2 separate regions of the Homo sapiens genome follow, and region 2 is reported to be linked to region 1. Evidence: microRNA targets listed by miRTarBase, many of them from high-throughput screens and not tested one by one. Region 1 holds a microRNA gene; the other region holds the end of a gene's coding sequence.

Region 1 (4,000 bases):
ACTGAGGCTTTGGAGAGGAAAGAAGTCCTCAGTAAGCTTCAGTGGAGACTCTTAGGGCTTGATTATTGTGTCAGGAATCAAATTAATCTCCTAAGCATCCCTTATGGCCTTGGCCTTGCAAAGCCAGGCCTCTGCCATGCTCGGGGGAAGGGATGCAGCAGGCTTCCTGGGCAGAAGGATCCAGCTCTTGGCCTCCTTTCTCTGCTCCTCCCTCTACTGCAGGGACCTGCCCCTCCTCCATTTCCTCCACCTGGAAATTAATGAGCTTAGGTCTTGCCCCATCCGCTGCAGCTTGGTGGTTAATACAGAGCTGGAAATGGGATGAGACTGTGGCAGCGCAGTACGAGGGGGGTCTCTAGGACCAGCTGCTGCTCAGGGTCTAGTGATGGGAGGAAGGCCTGATTTGGGAAGCAGGTTCTTCAGGATGAAAAGCTTAACCCTTTCCATTCCCTGACAGCCTCTTTCAAAACAGTCTTTCCTCAGACCCCCAGTTGCACACATTCTGTTTTTCCTTCTGTTCACATTTTTAAAGGAACACATGTCTCCCTTGGGTCCATGTAGGTTATTGTGCCTCTCCCTTCCTCTGCAGCTCCTGGATCTCTGCCTGAAACTGCAATAACAGCTACAGGGAGGGCGTGAGGTGCTCCTTAGAGCCATGACCACGCTTTCAACTCCGATAGAGCTTGTGAACCCGCTGGGAGCTGGCTCCTTCTTGTCCACATAGCCCAACGACTTCCTTAAGCTTGTCAGGTGCTCTCAGCTCTACAGCAAAGTGTGACAAACAGCTCCCCCTCTCCCTTCCTACCGCCTGCCCTCCTCCCCAAACCTCAAGCAGAACACAATATATCCGCAGTCCAGGCCCTGAGGCAGTCTGCCAGTCTCTGGATGCCAAATTATTATTTTTTTAAGGGCAAACCAAAAAACTCAGCTCAGAACAAAAACACAGTCACGGAGGAAGGTGTTGACCCACATACAATGAGTCCTGAGCCCAGAGAAAAATCTGCACACACAAGCACTCCGCAATGCGCTCCCAGGCGACCCCCTCCCCACGCACACCGCATCTGTGCTGCACAGATCTGCTTCTGTCACAGAATCAGCTTCTGTTTCTCTCCCTGAGTCTGTTTGCATCTCTAAGCCCCTGTCTGTCACAGGCTGCACACCTCCCCACCCCACGGGCTCCGGTGCGGGACAGGCAGCCGGAGGGAGCTCCAGACCCCTCCCCTCGCGCCCGCGGCCGCTGCGCGGAGGTCTGCGGAGGGCGCCTGGCTCGGTCGGTCGCTCCTTCCTTGGCGGGCCCTCGCCGACCCACGGTGCTCAGCCAGCCCCATTCTTGGCATTCACCGCGTGCCTTAATTGTATGGACATTTAAATCAAGGTCCGCTGTGAACACGGAGAGAGAGGCCTTTCTCCTGAGGAAGGAAAGGAGGAAGGAAGGAAGGAAAGGTGAAAGAAAGGAAGAGGGGTGGGTAGAAGATGGAATAAGAAAACCAGGAAAAAGAAATAAAAAGCGGCGCGTGTGCGTGCGCACTGACAGCGGGGAGAGGGATGGGGGTGGGGAACGCCGGAGGAAGGGACCACAGCATCCTCCCCGCCGCAGCTCCCCCAATCACACAGACAATGAGATAACAGCGACGTCTTCCAAAGGCTCTTTGTTCTCCCCCATCCTTTCGCATCCAGGCTTTTTCCTGCAAAGCGGAGGGGGTGGAGGGATGGGGGTGTGGGTGGAAGTGGGAGACGGAGGGGTGCCTCCCCCGTGTTAATTACCCCGGCTCCCCTCGCCCCTTTCCCCGCGCCTCGCCTCCCCTGCAGCTCCAGACAATGAAAAAACAACATCGACCCCACCTCGCCCCAGCGCAGCAACCCACCCACCCATGTCGCCCTCTGCTTCGCCCAGGAAACTGAAGGGGACTAGGAGGAGGAAGAAGAGAGCGAAGGACAAGGAGAGCAGCGGGGACTCGGCAGCGGCAGCCGGGGCAGGGCGCGCGGCCGCCGCCTCTTTACCTCCATCGCTGAGTGGGGGCGCAGCCGGGCCGGGCGTGCCGCAGGGGCGAGTTGCCGCGGTCCGGGGCTGGGACCTGGGGATTCAGCCTTCCGGAACTCGCCTGCTGCAGTCCTCTCGCTCAGGTCCCAAGTGGTGGAGGGGGGAAAGGAAGAGAGACGAGAGAGAGAGAGACAGAGAGAGAGAGAGAGAGAGGAAGAAGAAGAAGAAGAAGAAAAAAAAACCATAAGAGCGAGGCCCATCTGGCCCCTCATCAGCTTTGTCAAGTCTTGCATACGCTAAAATGCTAATGACCTAGATAGCTCATGCAAAATGCAGCAGGGAGGGCGGGAGCGAGGGAGGTGGGAGGGAGGAAGAGAGAGGAGTGCAGGGGGGAGGGAGGGAGGAGAGGCGGAGGGAGGGAGAGAGGGAGAGAGCACCCCTACACTCTCCCCACCCCACCCCCAACTGTCAGCGGGCTTTACCAGGTAAAGGGTGGACGTAGATTTAAAAGGTCACTCGTGTATAATGCGGCTGGATCCCCGGGTCAAAAAAAGGGGGCGAGACAGAGGATGAGAGTCCCTAAAGCCAAAAGGACAATAAGACATCATTTTAAGCCCCCACCCCCATGCCCTCCTCCACCTCTCCACACTGTTTACACACAAATCCTGTCGCCGCCTCATGCATGTGCACGGACATGTCAATTTCTCATCAATTTCTCAGCGCTCCTATCGACAGACACCCGAATTCTCATTCCCAGCAAAACTCATCCACTGGACCCGAGGGAGGAGAAGACCCCTTCTCCTCCTCAGTGCTCTTCGGGCTGGCCCATCCCTACTCACCTCCATCTCCACTCTCTACTCCCTTAGCCCTCCAGGCAGCAGAGGGCTCCTTCTCTTTTCTAAGCCTTGAGTCCCCTGTCCCCTTTCCAACCCCCGCATCTTGAGAAGGAGACGCAGAGTAGCAGGAAAGCCAAGTCAAGTCCACCTAGGTCTCCCACAATTCAGCTACCCCTCCCAGAAAAAAAAAGAGACCCCAACAACCCCGACCCCTCTCCTACGTAGACACTGTGAAAGCAAGCCACAGGGACAAATAAAAGACAATCCGAATACCCTCAGCGTTCCGCACGCCGGGCGGACGCCCTTCCGCAGCGGCCACGCGTGTTCTGGGTTCAGCGCTCCTGCGCGTCCCTTCTCGCCGAACCCAAGGTGCTTTGTCCCGGCGGCCACACAAGGTCTTCGGCTTTTTGTTCTCCTTTTTTAAGAGACTGGCCGCAGTCCCCAGCGATTCAGCCGGCCCAACCAAAGGCAGTGGATCTACTGAAATGAAAAGGATCGAGATAATACACAGGCAGATGAATAAGGGGGGGGATGCTGGAGGTGCAGGAAGCATCCTGGGAGCGGCCGCCACGGCCAAGCCCGAACTGCTTGCTGCCTTCGCTGGGGAAGGCGCAGGAGGCGAGCCGGCGCTGGTGGTCGCTCCACCTGGCAGGAGGAAATGATAACCATGATAAGGAACGTGATGATGATGATGATGATGATGATGATGATGATGAGCATGATTTAAAAAAAATCAGTCTCCCTCTTGGTGAACCAGAGCATGCGTGCCGGAGGGACTGCACTGCTGGCGGCGGCGGCCGGGGGAAGGAGAGCGGCGCAGGAGGCAAAGGTTGAGGAGGCAGCACCCTCGGATGAATAATAACACCGCGCCGCGCAAGTTGCGGAGCCGCCTGGAAATCCAGCCCTTCGCGTGAACTCGCGTCGAGCGCGGATTGCAGGGGATGAGGAAGAAGGGGGAGGGGAGGGGAGGGTGGAGGAGGGAGGGGGAGGGGTAGAGGGGAAGGCAGAGAGGGACAGAGAGAATTGGGAGCCTTTTAATTTTTCCTTACCAAGCCCTAATCTCGTGCGCCGTCCTCTTTGGCTGAGGTCGAGCTCCTTTTTAAAAATTATTACTCCTTTAAAGGATTATTCAGGTAAAGGAAGCCGCATCTGCTGACGGTTCCGAAAACAAGAGGATTAGGAG
Region 2 (4,000 bases), not on the chromosome of region 1:
CATCTACATAGCTTTCTCTCTCCAGGTAATGGGTGGAGGTTGGCATGGCCCTGTGGGTGGACTGTAGGCCTGTCTCTACCCTGAGTTTGCAGGAAGGAGTCTGGCCCATCCTATCGAGGGAAATCCTGGGGGTGGGGAACATGCTTTCCAGAAAGAGAGTTCCCAGCTAGGCCTTTCCTCACTGGTATTCCTTCTGCCCACAGTGCCTCTACTACGTGAGGGAGGCCCATGGCATTGTGGTGACGGATGTGGCCTTTCTACCTGAGAAGGGTCGTGGTCCAGAGCTCCTTGGGTCCCATGAAACTGCCCTGTTCTCTGTGGCTGTGGACAGTCGTTGCCAGCTGCATCTGTTGCCCTCACGGCGTGAGTCATTGGGGCAGGGCAGGCAGGCACCACCCCACGTTTAATGACCAGAAACGTGCCCCCCGGAGGCTGGGCTCTTTGTGCCACTCCTCCTTTGAAGGGTTCTGGTTTTCAGGCTGGGAAGCCCTTTTGCCCGCTGACCTCCTCCCTTTCCCTCCTGCAGGGAGTGTTCCTGTGTGGCTCCTGCTCCTGCTGTGTGTCGGGCTTATTATTGTGACCATCCTGCTGCTCCAGAGTGCCTTTCCAGGTTTCCTTTAGCTTCCCTGCTTCCTGGGAATCAGGAGCCTGGACACTGCCATCTCTAGAGCAGAGTGGAGGCCTGGACTCCCTTTGCTCACTCCATTCGGGTCCACAGCTGAGGTTGCCGCTGACAAGATGAATGGGCACTGCCTGCCCTTCTAGTGAAAAGGCTTGGCTATGGCCCTGTGTGACTCCAGGTCCCAGGAACCTTGCCTTCGTCATCTGTGGATCCATCCAGAACAGCGGTATCTGAAGCCCAGGCCATACTCCCTGCCTCCTTTCTTCTGCCTACCAGAGGCTCCAGAGTTGAGCTTGTCCTTATCTAGAAACATGTGAAGATGCCCAAGAGCCTGGAGGCACTGCTGTCCTTCCTGCAGAAACAGTTTCTCCTCCTCCCCTCAGCCTTGTGGCCAGTTCCTCTTCACATGAAGCCCCTGGCATTTGCTGGGGAAGGGACTGGCCTGGTACTTGCTGTTAGGGCAGGAAGGGGCAAAAGGAAGACTTGGGTAGTAATCTGGGGGTTCAGATGGGTAGCACTAAGCCAGCTGGCCTAAAGATGCAATAAGTTCCTAGGTAGTCTACCCTTACCTTGAGGAATGGGAAAATGAACCTCAGCCCATTAGGCAGGAAAAGTTGATATTTAATAAACAAGGAAAGAGTGAACTGAGACCCCAAATGGTACTCTTGTCAGCTGTTTCTGTCCTCAGAAGGTAAGAGAGCCCTGAGGTCAGGCAGCCCCTCTGGGTCCTGGAAGATGGCTTTGGCGTACTGATGCAAGAGGCGGCTCATGTACCAGTGCTGCCACGGGAGCAGCCCTTCCAGGAAGCCGATGTGGCCACCCCGGGCTGTGATGAGCAGCGCAACGTAGGGGGAGTGTTGGGCGGCCTGTATGGGAAGGGCTAGGAGAGGGTCAGAGGTTAGAAACACTGGCCTTCACTGGGAGCCCAGGCTGTCTGTTGCGTCCCTCATGGCCCATTTTCCTTGGGGCCAAAGTGTCCTGAATCAGAGTACTCACCACAGACGGGGGAGAAGGGGTCATCTGCTGCACTGAGATAGAGCACAGGGATCCGGATGGCATCTATCTTGGTTCTAGGGCTTGCTGCTTTGTAGTAGGTAACACAGTCTTGATATCCAAAGGCCACAGATGTGTAGCGCTCATCAAACTGGCGGATTGTACGGGCCTGCAGGTCTTACCATAGGATAGGCTAAGATGATAAAGAATAGGAAGATAGTGGAAGACTCATTTGGGGGAACCAGGGGCATGGCTGAATATTATACCTGTAGTACAAAGTCTATGTCCACCACCTTTTCAATCACCTTTCTGTTTCTGCAAAAGTACATAAGAGTTTGGCTTGACACCTGGATCTGATCCCCCACCCCCAGGCCCTGTCTTACTATCTCATGTGTGAGGAAGCCCAGAGAGAACTGACCAAGCACTAGGAGAGCCTGGAGTGTCTGCCATCCTACTCTGTCTACTGCCTCCTCCCACTTGCCACGACCCTACCGTTCCACAAGTTGGCAGAGCCCAGCAGTGAGGGGCTGATTGAAGAGCAGTGAGTTGAGTGGGGTTTCCAGGGAGCGAGTGGTCTCAAAGGAATCCCAGCATGCAGACAGAGTCAGTGCTGCCACCAGCCCTGCAGCCTGCCTGGCCTGTGCCAGGTGATTCAGCACCAGTATCCTGTGGAATTGGACAAGGGACCATGAAAGAAGGGTTTGCATTAATGTGGGTTGGGACAGAGGAAGGGGACATGGAGGAGGAAAAAAAGGAAGACTGGGCCTCTGGGCTAAGCCCAGGCAATCTTTACCCTCCAAAAGAGATGCCCACGGCCAGCAGTGGAGCTTGGGGATAACGATGCTTTATGTGGTTCACGACTGTCTCTAGATCTTCAGTATTGCTGGCACAAAAAGCCCTGTGGGTCTGAGGGCAAACCAGATCATTGGGTAGGGAGGGAGACCGTGGCCAGAAGGTGGAGGGGAAACTGAGGAAGGATAGGTAGGAGGTGAGCCCCAGGGCCAAGGATCTCTAAAGGGAGTGGGTGAAGGGCTGCTATGAGGAAGGCAGCTACTCACCCGCAGTTCCTCCCCACGGCAGCCCCGGTTGTTAAACACGACAGCCCTGTGGCACACACAGGTACATCTTAGCCAGACCCTTCTTAGCCCCTCTCCCCTTTCAGTATTCAGAAAGACCCCTGTCCAAAGACTCCCTTTGTGTAGCATTCTTCTTATCTATCAGTGTCCGGATTGACTTCTCCCTAATACACGTTCTCAGATGCCACCCCACTCTGGGGCTGCACCCATCCTTACTGGTAGCCATCCCTCAGAGCTTGGTTAACTAGGTGCAAGACGTATGTCTCCTGGCTACTGCCAGTGATGCCAGGAAGCAGCAGCACAATGGGCTGGGTAGTAGGATCAGGGTCTTGGCTGCTGTCAGGCTGCTTGGCCCAGTCTAGCAGGAGCTGGCCTCCATCTGGTGTTTGGAGGATGTCACTGGTTTTGGAGGAAGAGGCACACAAAGATACTATTAAGAACTTAATGTAATTCAAAAGCTTTGCCCCCTGCCCCACCCACAAACAAGTCTTATCACTTCCCGTCAGCATCATCTGAGGGTGTTCTTCATGTAAAACAGTAAGGCTTGACAATGTGTGATGGGGACATAAAAGATGACCTGGTGGCCGTGCAATTATATAGCCCTTCCATATAACATCCATTGTCATTGAACCCTCAACACAGGGATGTAGATGAGGCAGATTACCTACATTTTAAAAGTGGTAGATAGGTTTTTCCCTAGATACCTGGGGTTTCATGTTCACCCTGTTCTGTCCCTTCTTACCTCTGATAAAGGACTAGGGGCTGAGACTGCAGGAGGACTTGGAAGATGCTTTGTAGTCGCCCCTCAAAACACCACAGCGTTGGGTAGAAAGTCTCGGTGGTGATGGAACAGTGTGGCTCCAGGAAGGCCAGAAACTGCGGCCCAGCCACCAGCCGAGGCCTCTGTAATCACACAGCAGTCTGCCCCACTTCCCTGACTTTTGCACCAAGCTAGTGAGGCACCCAACACCAGAGGGTGAGGGGGCCCCCTCTCCAGAGCCCAGCCTGGAGGACCCTGCTTTGTCTGCATGTGAGATACTCAGCACAGCTCAGTTGAATGGCCAAGTCTGATAATACACTCCAGCTAGAGCCCCTAAAAAACCCAGTCCTGGAGTGTCACTGCCCAGAATTGACCCTGAACTGGGAGCTGCTGAGTTGACTGAGTGCTGACTTTCCTGCTCAGCCTATCCATGCCCCAAACCCATTTTGGAGAGAGCAGGTGATGTAAACAGCCACGCTCAGTGGTGTGCGCCTGTGGTCCCAGCCACTTGGGAGGCTGAGGTGGGAGGATCACTTGAGCCCAGGAGTT

Evidence for each region. Region 1 holds the annotated microRNA hsa-miR-124-3p (UAAGGCACGCGGUGAAUGCCAA, at 1,331-1,352, opposite strand). A microRNA usually pairs through its seed, bases 2 to 8, with sites in the 3' UTR of a target mRNA and lowers its output. Matches are read on the target gene's strand: a 7mer-m8 pairs with bases 2 to 8, a 7mer-A1 pairs with bases 2 to 7 and ends in A, and an 8mer does both.
Region 2: the mRNA of PREB is a reported target of hsa-miR-124-3p. The part of its 3' UTR that is shown has no 7-base or 8-base seed match.

What each region holds. Positions count from the first base shown.
Region 1 is chr8:9,902,069-9,906,068 of GRCh38, forward strand. MIR124-1 (microRNA 124-1) reads right to left here and starts at 1,404; the gene lies at 1,320-1,404. It overlaps MIR124-1HG (MIR124-1 host gene), which reads right to left and starts at 1,261. Exons shown (of 3, transcript NR_024281.1): 1 at 1-1,261. LOC124902057 (a long non-coding RNA gene) reads right to left here. Exons shown (of 4, transcript XR_007061170.1): 2 at 3,091-3,294; 3 at 2,464-2,560; 4 at 2,002-2,119.
Region 2 is chr2:27,128,035-27,132,034 of GRCh38, reverse strand. It overlaps PREB (prolactin regulatory element binding), which reads left to right. Exons shown (of 9, transcript NM_013388.6): 7 at 1-25; 8 at 204-363; 9 at 527-1,279. The coding sequence ends at 621. ABHD1 (abhydrolase domain containing 1) reads right to left here. Exons shown (of 9, transcript NM_032604.4): 2 at 3,434-3,594; 3 at 2,908-3,090; 4 at 2,674-2,719; 5 at 2,409-2,521; 6 at 2,108-2,281; 7 at 1,882-1,930; 8 at 1,619-1,784; 9 at 1,223-1,502. The coding sequence ends at 1,291. Among named protein-coding and RNA genes, the nearest start is that of PREB, 4.6 kb to the left of the region's middle.